Linked DNA regions of Homo sapiens. The protein of the gene in region 2 interacts with the protein of the main gene of each other region in a pairwise test. Each region holds a gene or a part of one and is shown on either strand. Other genes may lie near its edges.

What was found. The genes of interacting proteins can lie anywhere in the genome.
Region 1: the proteins of DHRSX (region 2) and TMEM143 interact in binary tests that used the Homo sapiens proteins (3 or more experiments, as listed by UniProt).

What each region holds. Positions count from the first base shown.
Region 1 is NC_000019.10:48,332,588-48,340,118, reverse strand, and holds part of TMEM143 (transmembrane protein 143), read left to right. Parts: intron 1-5,921; coding exon 5,922-6,111; intron 6,112-6,685; coding exon 6,686-6,900; 3' UTR 6,901-7,531.
Region 2 is NC_000023.11:2,238,613-2,246,143, forward strand, and holds part of DHRSX (polyprenol dehydrogenase), read right to left. Parts: intron 4,619-7,531; coding exon 4,411-4,618; intron 1-4,410. UniProt on the Homo sapiens protein: Oxidoreductase that plays a key role in early steps of protein N-linked glycosylation by mediating two non-consecutive steps in dolichol biosynthesis.

The DNA of each region.
Region 1 (7,531 bases), on a different chromosome or scaffold from region 2:
CAGTTGACAAGTTAATTTAGTGTATTCATGAATTCATGAGGTATTTCCCCACGCCTTGGGGTGAGGCCCAGCCTTTACATGTGGGCCCTTGGCTGGGTGCAGTGGCTCATACCTGTAATCCCAGCACTTTGGGAGGCTGAGGCAGGCAGATCACATGCAGTCAGGAGTTCGAGACCAGCCTGGCCAACGTAGTGAAACCCCATCTCTACTAAAAATACAAAAATTAGCCAGGCGTGGTGGCGCATGCCTGAAATCCCAGCTACTTGAGAGGCTGAGGCAGGAGAATCACTTGAACTCGGGAGGTGGAGGTTGCAGTGAGCTGAGATTGCGCCACTGCATTCCAGCCTCGGTGACAGAGCGAGACTCCCATCCCAACACAAACAAACAAACAAAGAAACAAAAAAACAGTTGGCCCTCCCAGACTCCCTCCTGGCTGGTCCCCTCCTGCGCTTCAGTTGCTCCCAGATCTCTGTCTTCATTGCAAGCCCCTCCCCTAGTCCCCTAATCTGGCTTCTCCTGTTCCCTGGACACACCCAAGCCCATGTGCAGCGTGTCCCCATGAGCCCAGAGTCCAGCTGCCTCAACCCTCCTGCTCCTCTCAAGTTCCCCATCTCACCTTGGAACAGGCACTCAGAGCCCCACTGCGGGATAAGGGGTGCGGGGAGCAAGGTGCGGGATGCGGAGTATGGGGCCCTCTTTCTTCCAAGACACAGGGCTGCTCTGCTTCTGTGGTTTCCACAGGAGCTCTCTACTGTCCATGATCAGATCAACCAAGAAGCTCCAGGCTCAGCCTCCCGGCTGGGGCCCTCACTCTCACTGTAGGCCAAGCACAGCGTCTCCCCTGACATCTTCTCTTCTGGGCTCCGCATCTAAGGATGACCTGTCATCCCGCCAGTCACTGGCTAGACCCCCAGCCCACCCTTCCTGTCCCACCTCTGTGCCCCCTGCTCAGGCCCTCTTCCCAGCCTCCAGTTGGTCCCTTCCAGCCCATTCCCCATTCTACCCAGTCCTGCCCTGCCCCTCCTCTGGGCACAGCCTGGCACCAGGGACCCTGCTTCCCAGCCTCACTGGACACAATCCTTCCCCTCGAATCTGCGCCTCAGCTCCTCCTGCATGCTTGCGGCGCCCCCACCCTGCCATCCCTCGTTCTCTGCCTTTGCCTGTGCTGTTCCCTTGGACTGAAATGCCCTTTCCTCTTGTTGGGCTGGCCAACCCCTGCTCACCCCTCACCCTCAGCTCAGAGGCTGCCTGCTCTGGGAAGCCTTCCCGGATGTCCCAGGCTGGGGTGGTGCCCCTGTGGGTTCCTCCATACCCTGGGCTCTACTGTGAAGCCCCTTAGCCCAGCACCAAGCAGGCCCATGGGGCAGCCTGGGGAGGGATGTTGAACTGGTGCCCCTGAGATGCAGCAGCCCGATCCTGCCCTGGAGGGAGAGGTGTGGGGTCCCTGGACACAGGCAGTCGGTCTGTAATGGAGGCGGCAGCTGGCACAGCAGGAGCCCGAGGCTGCATCTGCTCGTCCGCGAGAGGTGATGTCCATCCTGAGCCTTGAGGATGAGGCAGTGAACATTTTCCAAGAACACACCAGGGGTGGTTTGGCTTGTGCCTGGGCCTGGAGGCCTGAGAGAGCAGGACCTGTTCAGGGTAAACCGGCTTTTTCAGCATGCGCTGCATTCACAGGGGAGGAGCAGGAGGTGACAGGGAGGGCCTCGTGTGCCGGGCCACGGAGCTTGGACTCTGAGAGCACTGGGGAGCCATGGGAGGACCATGAGCAGGGGAGGGGCAGGGGCAGCTCTGAACCTATGTGCAGACAAACTGGACGGGGAGACTGAGGCCAGGGAGGAGGCTGGAGTGATGCAGGCGGGGATAAAGTCTGAGCCAAGGATGAGCTGGGGAGCTGCAGAGGAGGAGACGGGCAGAGAGAGTCAGGGGACTGCAGAATGGGGTTGGGACTGACAGGTTGGCGAAGGGGGAGCAAGGATGGTGCCAGGGGCCTGGCCTGTGACTGAGTAGGTGGAGGGGCTGCCCAAGACATAGACCCCAGGGTAGGAGGAGCGAGTGCTGTATTCCTTGTGGGCAGCGGTAGTGCTGAAGGGACCCTCCGGGTGGCAGGGGGACCCCTCTCCAGGGAGACTCTGGCTTCATCTGTGTGCCACAGAGTGACCTGCTCCTTTAACTAGAATTCAGCTCCATCGGCTTGGCAGATACTGACACAAACCCAATGTGTTTTTCATACCACACGGTCCCTAACGCATGCTATTCCTGCATCTTGCCCTCAACCGAAGAAATGGCGATTCGTTCCAATGCAGGCACCTAAACTGACTGTGCTGGCCTGGTGAGAAGAGGGTACAGTCCACATGCAAGCGTGTCATTGGTACCTTGCAGGCCATTTCAGCGATTTTCTGGGGTGCGCTGACTTGAGAGGCATTTCACCTCAGGCCTCGGTGTGAGATGGGAACACCCTATGGGCACCCAGCACAGGGTGTGGGTGACTGTTCCATAGTAGCTGATGTTTGGTAAGTGTTTCTGAGGGGCCAGGCTTTGTCCCAATGTTTTTTTTTTTTCTTCTTTTTTTGAGATGGAGTCTCGCTCTGTCCCCCAGGCTGGAGTGCAGTGGTGCAACCTCAGCTCACTGCAACCTCTGCCTCCTGGGTTCAAGCCATTCTCCTGCCTCAGCCTCCCAAGTGGCTGGGATTACAGGCGCCGCCACCATGCCTGGCTAATTTTTTGTATTTTTAGTAGAGACGGGGTTTCACTATGTTGGCCAGGCTGGTCTTGAACTCCTGACCTCGTGATCCGCCCGCCTCGGCCTCCCAAAGTGCTGGGATTACAGGCGTGAGCCACCGCGCCCGGCTGTCCCAATGTTTTATTAACCGTGTATTGACTTCCTGAACCCTCCCTGGCATTGGCATTGTTGTACAGACAGTGCTGACTGAGGACTTAGGTCTTACCAGGGGCAGCCGGTAAGGGTTTAGTGGGTCAGGCAGCCAGGCCTGCCAGCTACAGGGTCCAGTGGCCCTGAGCTCATTTTGTGGCTGAATGGAGGAATCTGGGTACAGGTACAGGTTTTCTTTTTTTTCTTTTTTCTTTTTTTTTTTTGTGAGACTGAGTCTTGCTCTGTCACCCAGGCTGGAGTGCAGTGGTGCGATCTCAGCTCACTGCAAGCTCCGCCTCCCAGGTTCACGCCATTCTCCTGCCTCAGCCTCCTGAGTAGCTGGGACTACAGGCACCCACCACCACGCCCAGCTAATTTTGTTTTTGTATTTTTAGTAGATACAGGGTTTCACCGTGTTAGCCAGGATGGTCTCGATCTCCTGACCTCGTGGTCTTGATCTTCTGACCTCGTGATCCACCCGCCTCGGCCTCCCAAAGTGCTGGGATTACAGGCGTGAGCTACTGCGCCCGACCGCTTTTTTTTTTGAGACACAGTGTCACTCTGTCGCCCAGGCTAAAGTGCCGTGGCACGATCTCGGCTCACTGCAACTTCTGCCTCCCGGGTTCAAGAGATTCTCTTGCCTCAGCCTCCTGAGTAGCGGGAATTACAGGCACATGACACACACCTGACTAATTTTTGTATTTTTATTTATTTATTTTTTTGAGACAGAGTCCCACTCTGTTGCCCAGGCTGGAGTGCAGTGGCGCAATCCTGGCTCACTGCAACCTCCACTTCCCGGGCTCAAGCGACTCTCCTGCCTCAGCCTCCCAAGTAGCTGGGATTACAGGTGCCTGTCACCATACCTGACTAATTTTTTTTTTTTGTATTTTTAGTAGAGACAAGGTTTCACCATGTTGGCCAGGCTGGTTTCGAACTCCTGACCTCAAGTGATCTGCCCGTCTCGGCCTCCCAAAGTGCTAGAATTACAGGCATGAACCACCGTGCCAGGTCTAATTTTTGTATTTTTAGTAGAGATGGGGTTTCACCATGTTGCCCAGGTTGGTCTCGAACTCCTAACCTCAAGTGATCTGCCCTCCTCATCCTCCCAAAGTGCAGGGATTACAGGTGTCAGCCACTGCATCTGGCCTGGGCACAGTTTTTCAGTGGGAGCCCAGAGGGCACTGATGCCCTCATTTCTCCTTACCAATATCAAGGATGAGAAGAGGGGTCCAAGCAAAGAGACTAACGGTGGGGAAGTGGGCAGCCAGTAGACAGCTGGGCCCAGACCTGTTCTTCCCCCCAACATCCTTCCCCTCTCCTCTTCTCTTTACAATTTAACTTTTTTCTTTTTTTGAGACAGGGTCTCACTCTGTTGCCCAGCCTGGAGTGCAGTGGTATGATCATGGCTCACTGTAGCCTCAGCCTCCTGGGTTCAGGTGATTCTCCTGCTTCAGCCTCATGAGTAGCTGGGACTACAGGTGCTCACCATCACACCCAGCTAATTATTATTATTATTATTTTTTGAGGCAGAGTTTCATTCTTGTTGCCCAGGCTGGAGTGCAATGGCATGATCTCGGCTCACTGCAACCTCTGCTTCCCAGGTTCAAGCGATTCTCCTGCCTCAGCCTCCCGGGTAGCTGGGATTACAGGCATGAGCCACCATGCCCGGCTAATTTTGTATTTTTAGTAGAGACGGGTTTCTCCATGTTGGTCAGGCTGGTCTCGAACTTCCAACCTCAGGTGATTCACCTGCCTTGGCCTCCCAAAGTGCTGGGATTACAGGCGTGAGCCACTGAGCCCAGCCTGCTATTGTTTTTTAATTTTAATTTTTTGTAGAGATGAAGCTTTTGCCATGTTGCCCAAGCTGGTCTTGAACTCCTGGGCTCAGGTGATCCACCCACCTTGGCCTCTCAGCGTTGGGATTACAGGCCTGAGCCACTGCACTTGGCCTACAGTTTAATATTTTAAACCATTTTTTCCTTCATTATAGAAAAGTTCAAACAAACACAGAAATAGGATAGTATGATAAACTCCACTAGCCAGCACCTAGCATCAACAATTAGCAATAGTTAATCAGATTTCCCCTGAAGACCTCCACTGTCCTACTATTGGATGATTTTGAAGTAAATCCTACCTAGACTTATTTGGAAATACTTTATTATGTCTCTAAAACATAAGGATGTATTGTAACAAAATCTTTCAAAGCTAAAACTCCTATCATCTGCAAACCTTTGGGTAAATCCATTAATACATGGCTCAGATGAGCAAACCAGTGCAGTGGTTGCTGAAAACTGTAGGCCAGATGGGGCTGGTGGTCTTGGAGCCACTGGAATGAGGGCACGTGTGTTAAAAATACAGATCCCCAGCCGGTGCCTTGGGTCACGCCTGTAACCCCAGCACTATGGGAGGCTGAGGAGCGAGGATCACTCCAGGCTGGGAGTTTGAGACCAGCCTGGTCAACACAGGGAGAATCCCGTCTCTACAAAAAATATCGGGCTTGGTGGCGCACACCTGTAGTCCCAGCTACTTAGGAGGCCAAGGCGGGAGGATCGCTTGAGCCCGGGAGTTCAAAGCTTCAGTGCGTTATGAGTTTGCCTGTGAATAGCCACTGAACTCCAGACTGGGCTACAGGGCGAGACCCTGTCGAAAAAAAAAAAAAAAGGAAAGAAAAGAAAGAAAGGAAGGAAGGAAGAAAAAGAAAGAAAGAAAAGAAAAGAAAGAAAGAGAAAGAAAGAAAAGAAAGAAAGAACGAAAGAAAGAAAGAAAAAGAAAGAAAGAAAGAAAGAAAGAAAGAAAGAAAGAAAGAAAGAAAGAAAGAAAGAAAGAAAGAGAGAAAAAGAAAGAAAAAGAAAAGACAGACCCCAAAAATCCCCAAATAGATCCCTCGACTGAGCTCTGGGGACCCGTACTGAAGAGGTCTGGGTAGGACCTCCCCGCCTCCTCAGGGGAGTAAGCGGCGTGGGCCGTGCCAGCGGGGGTGACCCCGGGGGCTGTGTATGGGTGGGGGCGCACCCCGAACTGAGCCCACGGGGCGCTGTCCCGCCTGCAGATGTTCGGGCAGCGGCGCAGCGCGCAGGCGTTGGAGCTGGCGCACATGCTGTACTATCGCAGTACGTCCAACAACTCGGAGCTGCTCAGCGCCCTGGCCCTGCGCGCGCAGGACGAGCACACCAAGGAGGCGCTGCTGGCTCACAGCTTCCTGGCCCGGCGGCCAGGGGGCACTCAAGGCTCGCCCGAAGGTAGGACGTGGCCCTGGGACCCTGCCCCCAGGGGCCACACCCCCGCGAGGCCCCGCCCCAGCGAGATGCGTCCCCACCCCCAGTTCCCACGGGTGAACCTGACGGGTTTGCGAAGAGACCCCGGCCCTCAGCAGACAGGACCTCCGAATCCAGACTCCGATCTTGGTGCCTGATGTGACAGCCCTTTCTTAACCTCAGCCTGGTTGGGAGTCTTGGCTCCATGGCACGGCCCCCTCCTGTCATTCTTTCCTCTACCTGAGCTGACACTCTCCCTACAAGAGATCCTGCGCGCTCCCTGTGTGGGCTCCAGGTGGTCCCCTTGCCTACAGGAGCCCCCACCTTCCCTGCCCAAGAGCCCCTGACTGGTCCCCAGACGAAAGCCCCAGAGCTGGGCCTTCTGGCCCTCTCGACCCTCCTGGGCCTTGTTCCGCTCCCCTCCAAGCCTCAAGATCACTCCTAGGCTTCTCCCAAACCCAGGCCCTTCCTGTTCTTTGCCCTACGCCCCTCCTTGCTGCTCCCTCGAATCTTCCCCGATCTCAGTGTGACCTCAGAACACCTGCCTCTCCCCTTGCAGAGACCTCCAGGTGGCTCCGGTCGGAGGTGGAGAACTGGCTCCTAGCCAAGTCAGGCTGTGAGGTGACCTTCAACGGAACTCGGGCCCTGGCGCATCTGCAGGCCCTGACCCCCAGCATGGGATTGTACCCACCCCCGGGTTTCCCCAAACTAGACCCAGTGGCTCCGATCACTTCCGAGCCCCCGCAAGCCACGCCCAGCAGTAACATCTCCTGAGTAGAACCTACCTCCCTGCCCAGTCAGCAGGCTAGGAACTAAGCCCCGCCTCCTTCACGACAGGCTGTCAATTACGGTTATTATACTTTTCACTCCAACTTCCAATAACTGACAGGTGATTATTTTTGCTGCACTGTGTGCTTAAGCAAAGCAGCCAATCAAAGCAGCTAGCAGTTGTTAAGTCTTCCCCGCCCCTTCGATGAACAGCCAATCAAAGCGATTTAGCTCTGCTTCTGTTCCATTTCTTAGTCCCACCCTCACCATAAACATCCAAGTGTGGTTTGGCTGAGGAGCTGAGGGTGTCTGCCAATCACAGCTGCTCAGCTCTGGCTTCTGTAAACCGCCAGGTAGAAGAGTTAAAGCTGCGCCCTCCCGAGACTATATATCATTGTCTTTTTCAGCCCGCTCCGGGCAAACTGCCCATCATGTGCACCAAGGCCGTTAGCCCTGCCTCCTGGCAAACGTCCAGTGACAGCTGCTGGGTTCCATCAACTTTGGGCAGCCGGTTGTCGCTGCAGGGAAGGAACCAATAAGAATTTCTAAAGGAAACCTGATCTTGCTATCAATTGCTGCTGCTTAAATGGCAGGCCAACTGGTCAGCTGCTGATCAGGGTGTCTAGGCTGAAGGAGT
Region 2 (7,531 bases):
CACTCTTTTCACCCAGGCTGGAGTGCAATGGCGCCATCTCGGCTTACTGCAACCTCCGCCTCCCAGGTTCAAGCGATTCCCCTGCCTCAGCCTCCCGAGTAGCTGGAATGACACACACGCGCCACCACACTCGGCTAATTTTTTTTTTTTTTAATAGAGATGGTGTTTCACCATGTTTGACAGTCTGGTCTCGAACTCCTGACCTCAAGTAATCCACTCACCTTGGCCTCCCAAAGTGCTGGGATTACAGGCATGAGACACGGCACCCAGCTGATCTTCCAAGTCTTAATATACAATGCATGCATGCATGCATGCATACACACTAGTAAATAATACATACACAGCAATACAGAATTATCATTACAAAGACAGCATCAAGCTACTGCAGCTGTATAGCCTTTTCTTTAAAATTCTTACATTATTTTAATTTCATTTCCAGGCTAATGCATATTCTTCTGCTCTATAATTTTAAAGTTTCCACAATGTTGTCTCTTATATAAAGGCAGTATCACTCGAGCAATGCCCCGTGGTTATTTTTAATCCAAATTTGCAGATGATGATCAAAGGATTAAAGAATGATTCATGTGGCTAAAGTTGCAGTTTGCTTGTTAAATATTTAGAAAGAAATAATGTCAAGGCCAGCCATGGTGGCTCATGCCTGTCATCCCAGCACTTTGGGAGGCAGAGGTGGGAGAATCACTTGAGGCCAGGATTTCAAGGTTGCAGCCAGTGATTGTGTCATAATTCCAGCGCACAAGACCAACCTGGGCGAACAGCAAGATGCCGTTTCTACAAAAAAAAAAAAAAATGCACAGCAGCCAGGGTGACAGAGCAAGACCTGGTCTCTAAAAAATTTAAAAGAGGCCGGGCGTGGTGGCTCACGCCTGTAATCCCAACACTTTGAGAGGCCGAGGCAGGTGGATCACGAGGTCAGGAGATCAAGACCATCCTGGCCAACATGGTGAAACCCCGTCTCTACTAAAAAAAAATAAAAAATAAAAAAAAAATTAGCCAGACGTGGTGGCGGGCACCTGTGGTCCCATTTACTCGGGAGGCTGAGGCAGGAGAACGGCATGAACCTGGGAGGCGGAGCTTGCAGTGAGCTGAGATCGCGCCAACGCACTCCAGCCTGGGCAACAGAGCAAGACTCAGTCTCAAAAAAAATAAATAAATTAAATAAAATAAAAAAACAGCAAATGCTCTCCTTGGATACTGAAGTCACTCTCTGAGGGATTCATGGGGGTTTTATAAGGATGAAATGTATCCTAGTGTTGGTGTATTGCTAGCGAATACTTAGTGCTTAATAAAATAACTAATATTTTGAAATTCCTTTGCTTGAGGAATTAGAGATGTGAAGAACAACAGATCAGAAAGCAAACTGCAAAATAAGGGATGTACAGCTGGGCGCGGTGGCTCACGCCTGTAATCCCATCACTTAGGAAGGCCGAGGTGGGCGGATCACCCGAAGTCAGGAGTTCGAGACCAGCCTGGGCAACATAATGAAACCCCGTCCCTACTAAAAACACAACACTTAGCCAGGCTTGATGGCAGGTGCCTGCAGTCCCAGCTACTCAGGAGGCTGAGGCAGGAGAATCACTTGAACCCAGGAGGCGGAGGTTGCAGTGAGCTGAGATCGCGCCAGTGCACTGCAGCCTGGTGACAGAGCGAGACTCTATCTCAAAAAAAAAAAGAAAAAGAAAAAGAAAAAAAGAAATTCCTTTGCTTGAGGAATGAGAGATTCGAAGAACAACTGATAAGAAAGCAAACTGCAAAATAAGGGAAGTAATTAATCCCCTCAAAAAGTCCACATTGGGGGCGGGCAGCTCATATCATGAGAGACTTTCAGACGAAATCAAGAGCAATGCCAGGAGTCCAACAGGGAGAAAAGAGAATTTGTAACCAAGCTCATTAATTCCAAAGCTTGATGAAACAGACAATTACCTAAAGGGAAAAGCTGTCTAAACTGACTCAGAAAGAGGTGGGAAACTTCAACAAGCAGTAGACGCCCAAGGAATTTTGAAAGCTGAGTTAGAATCGCTCTTCCGAAAATTCCTCAACCCATGCGGTTTTGAAGGTGAATCGTGGCGGTGTTTCAAAAGCAGACACTTTTAAAAATGCTAATTAGACGATTCTGCAATGTAAAGGGAGAAATAGAAAAGCTTCTCAAGGTTCTTTCTTTGTTTTGTAAACAAATTATTAAAACTTTAGTATCCCGACTTGAGATAGATAGGAAAGAAAGTAAATCTATAGCTCCCAGATACATATCACTTCAAAAGACCTCAAGGAGGACAGGCACGGTGGCTCACTACTGTATCCCAGCACTTCGGGAGACCGAGGCGGGCAGATTACTTGAGGTAGGTCAGGAGTTCGAGACCAGCTTGGCCAACATGGTGAAACCCTGTCTTTACTAAAAATACAAAAACTAGCCGGGCATGGTGGCGCACACCTGCAATCCCAGCTACTCAGGAGGCTGAGGCAGGAGAATCACTTGAACCCGGGAGGCAGAGGCTGCAGCGAGCCGAGATCACACCACGGCACTCCAGCCTGGTGATAGAGCTAGACTCCATCTCAAACAAACAAACAAAAAAACCCAAGGGAATGGCTGGGGCATGAAATCTTGCAGTGCTTAAGAAGTTAATGCATCACGACAACGAAGATCATTGCAGAAATGTGGGAGCTTTCAGCTGCTGGGTCTTAAAAACCAACACCCCAAAGTACGGTGCTTTGTCCTGCTGAACTGAAGAAGCCTCAAGATCTCTCTAACTTCCCCCTCCTGCTTCCTCTGTGTCTCCCGATGCACAGGATGAAGTTGTTCTCTGAAGTTTCCTGAAGTCTGGACATGTCAAAGAAGGAAAAATGACCAGTGTCCCCTTCCCTGAGTTTCTGAACCCACATCGCGGAGGAAAGACTGATGTCTGTCAACAGCCCTGCAGAGACTCCTCATAAACCACTGTCTGTTCTGAGGGTTCCACAGCCTCTGTCCCTGCAGAGACTCGTCATAAACCATTATCTGAGGCCAGGCGCAGTGGCTCACACCTATCATCCCAGCACTTTGGGAGCCCGAGGCGGGTGGATCACCTGAGGTCCAGAGTTCGTGACCAGCCTGGTCAGCGTGATGAAACCCCGTCTCTACTAAAAATACAAAATTAGCCAGGCGTGGTGTCACATGCCTGTAATCCCAGCTACTCGGGAAGCTGAGGCAGGAGAATCGCTTGAACCCAGGAGGCAGAGGTTGCACTGGGCAGAGGTCCCGCCACTGCACTCCACTCTGGGCAACACAGAACGAAACTCCGTCTCAAAAAAAACAAGCAAACAAACAACAATAACAAAAAACATTATCTGTTTTCGGGCCACTGTACATTGTTCAAACCCATTGACTTCTCTTTAAAATCATTTACTATTTGGAATCCTATATTCACCCCCAATTCCCCACTCCCCTTCCGCTAAGAAGAAGAGGACACAAGCGTCTGTACCCCTTTGTGTAATGGGGCAATTCCTCTGACATTCTCCTCCATGGATGAGAATACATTTGCCTGTCATTTCCTTTATTCATGTTTCAAAAAGGGCAATTGTATTTTGTGCGTTGATTTTTCAGCAAACCTTCAAATGGCAAAGGGGGATGTTTTTCCCTTGGCCCCTACCACAGCATCCCCAAACGGTCTCCAGCTCCTAAGAAGATTCATTTATGGGCACTACCTAGCTACACAGCGTCACCCACCGAGCTCGCACACAACCAAGGCTTTGGGGTGAGAATGTACAAATACATCACGGAATCCAAGCCCCCAACACCGCACACGCAGCCTGGAAGTGGTTGTGTCAGAGCTGTGTGAACCAGCGTGACTCCATCTTGAATAGGGGCTGGGTAACACGAGGCTGAGACCTGCTGGGCTGCATTCCCAGGCGGTTAAGGTATGCTAAGTCGCAGGATGAGATAAGAGGTTGCTACAAGGTACAGGTCATAAAAACCTTGCTGATACAACAGCTTGCAGTAAAGAAGCGGGCCAAAACCCACAAAAAGCAAAATGGCGACAAGAGTGACCTCCGGCTGTCGTGACGGCTACATTCCCACCAGCGCCAGGACAGTTACAAATGCCACGGCAATGTCAGGAAGTTACCCTCTACGGTCTAAAAAGGGGAGGCATGAATAATCCCCCCCTCGTTTAGCATATCATCAAGAAATCACCGTAAAAATGGCCAACCAGCGGCCGCCGGGGATGCTTTGTCTGCGGAGGAGCCATTCATTTACTCCTCTACCTTCTCAATAACTTGCTTCTCTTTCCACCACTGAGCCGTCCTGAATTCTTTCTTGCACGAGATCCAAGAACCCTCCCTTGGGGTCTGGACTGGGGACCCCCTTTCCTGTAGCATCTTCAGGTGCAGCCGTGAATCAGAGAAGCAGAAGGGGCTTACCTTGAAAAGCAACCAGCCGAGAAGCTTCTTCGCCAGACGGGTGGCCCAGAACACGTGCTTGTAGACGTCCGTGTTGACCACCCCGGGGTCCACCACGTTGGCGGTCACGTGGCTTCCCTCAGCCGCCAGCAGCCGCTGGAGGTGGTAGGTGAACAGGACAAGGGCCAGCTTGCTCTGGGCGTAGGCTGCGTGGGGTGAGTAGCAGGCACTGTGGGGCAAGCAGGAGAAGGTGTAAGAGGCTGACGGCGTTCACGCCTAAGTGCTTCATCCCAGCAGCATCTGTACCTGCGGCCACGGCCACGTCTATACGCAGCCACCTCCCCTAGACCCATGTGTGATCATGCCATCTGTTGGCCAGTTTTCCAACGCGTGTGGATTTTTCTAGTTCACCTTTTTATTATAAACTCATCCCTTAATTGTATTGGGGTCAGATATGTTAAATTATGTTACTAATTTTTTATTTATTTATTTATTTATTTTGGAGACAGAGTCCCCCCTCTGTCGCCCAGGCTGGAGTGCAGTGGTGCAATCTTGGCTCACTGCAACCTCCACCTGCCCGGTTCAAGTGATTCTCCTACCTCAGCCTCCCCAGTAGCTGGGACTACAGGTGCCCGCCACCACACCCTGCTAATTTTTTGTATTTTCAGCAAAGATGGAAGTTTTACCATGTTGGCCAGGCTGCTCTCGAACTCCTGACCTCAAATTATCCACCCGCTTCAGCCTCCCAAAGTGCTGGGATTACAGGCAGGAGCCACTATGCTCCCTGTTTTTTTTTTTTTTTTTTTTTTTTTTTTTTTTTTGAGACAGATTCTCACTCTGTCACCCAGGCTGCAGCCTCCCGGGTTCAAGCGAATCTCGTGCCTCAGCCTCCAGAGTAGCTGGGATTACAGGCTCCTGTCACCACGCCCGGCTAATTTTTTGTATTTTTAGTGGGAACAGGGTTTCACCATGTTGGCCAGGCTGGTCTTGAACTCCTGACCTCGGGTGATCCACCCTCCTTGGCCTCCCAAAGTGCTGGGATGACAGGCATGAGCCACCGCGCCTGGCCACATGTGGTCTTCTTGATGAGTCTCAAATCATAAAAGACAACCACACAAGCAATTTGGCAAACTTCCCAAGCTATCATAAATTTTCCTCACATCTACTGCAAGCTCTGTAGTGTGCTAAGCACATGTTAAACTCTTTGCACCTTGGTTCAAGCAGTTTAGAGAAATGTTTTAGTATCACAGGACATAGTGATAAAAATCGATCCGATAACCGCGGTAAAGTGAGTAACGTGCCTCTCTCTCTCTCTCTGGTAACCTCAATCACCAGAAACACAGAAAACTGGATGTTTCCAGCTTTGCTCCTGTAAATATGTTCTACTTTTTCTATGTATGCCTTAGAAACACTTTTTAAAGAGATGTTATTTGCGGTGTTACATAACGTCCCTTGAAGGCACACAACCACCATAGACTCCTTTTAGAATTTAATGCTAGGCACAGATCATTAGCCTTAGAATTGGCCTCATAGTTCTTTTCAATAAGACAAGGAGAAGTATTTGAGCAATAATGTTTTTCTTTCCTCTGGGGCTCCAAAGATGCCCAGAGGCGATCAATTTGCTACACAATTATCGTAACAACATTTCAAGGTGGCTGAAGGTTCATATCGCTTGCTTCTTTTATATATATATATATTTTTAAATTTTATTTTTATTTATTTATTTTTGAGACAGAGTCTTGCTCTGTCAACCCAGCTGGAGTACAGTGGCGTGATCTCGGCTCACTGCAAGCTCCTCCTCTCGGGTTCAAGTCATTCTCCTGCCTCAGCCTCCCAAGTAGCTGGGACTATAGGCGCCTGCCACCTGCCTGGCTAATTTTTTGTATTTTTAGTAGAGACGAGGTTTCACCATGTTAGCTAGGATGGTCTCGATCTCCTGACCACGTGATCTGCCCACCTCGGCCTCCCAAAGTGCTGGGATTACAGGCATGAGCCACTGTGCCCGGCCTAATTTTCTGAATTAACCACATGGTATATGTATCCTGATGGAAGCTGTGAACAGAAAATATCTGGGCACCCCAAAAGCGGGAAGCTCAAAGGAAAAGTCCAGCTGGAACCTGCTGAAGGCAAACCTGCCTCCCACTCTGTTCAAAGTCACCCCTGTGCTCACTGAGATAGATGCATATCTGATCACCTCCTTTGGGAAGGCTCATCACAAACCCAAAAGAATGTAACCATCTGTGTCTCACCTACCTGTGAGCTGGAAGCCCCCTCCCTGCTTCCAGTTGTCCCTGCTTTTCAAGGACTATACTTCTTATTTTTTTGAGACAGAGTTTTGCTCATATTGCCCAGGCTGGAGTGCAGTGGCACAATCTTGGCTCACTGCAACCTCTACCTCCTGGGTTCAAGCCATTCTCCTGCCTCAGCCTCCCGAGTAGCTGGGATTACCAGCGCCCGCCACCACGCCCGGCTAATTTTTTGTATTTTTAGTAGACATGGGGTTTCACCATGTTGGCCAGGCTGGTCTCGAACTCCTGACCTCAGGTGATCCGCCTGCCTCGGCCTCCCAAAGTGCTGGGATTACAGGCGTGAGCCACCGCACCCACCCCAACGTAGCTCTTACATATATTGATTGATGTCTCCTGTCTCCCTAAAATGTATAAAACCAAGCTATGGCCAGACGCAGTGGCTCATGCCTGTAATCTCAGCACTTTGGGAGGCCAAGGCGGGCGGATCACAAGGTCAGGAGTTTGAGACCAGGCTGGCCAACATGGTGAAACCCTGTCTCTACTAAAAAAAAAAATTAAAAAATTAGCCAGGCATGGTGGCATGTGCCTGTAGTCCCAGCTACTCCGGAGGCTGAGGCAGGATAATTGCTTGAACCTGGGAGGCAAAGGGTGCAGTGAGCTGAGATTGTACCACTGCACTCCAGCCTGGGCAAGAGAGTGAGACTCCATCTCAAAAAAAACAAAAAAACAAAAAAACACACAAACAAAAAAAAAACAAGCTGTGACCTGACCACGTTGCACACGTCATCAGGACTTTCTGAGGCTATGTCACAGGCTCACGTCCTTAAATTTGGCAAAACAAACTCTAAATTAACTGAGACCTGTCTCAAATTTTCAGGGTTCACAAAGCCATC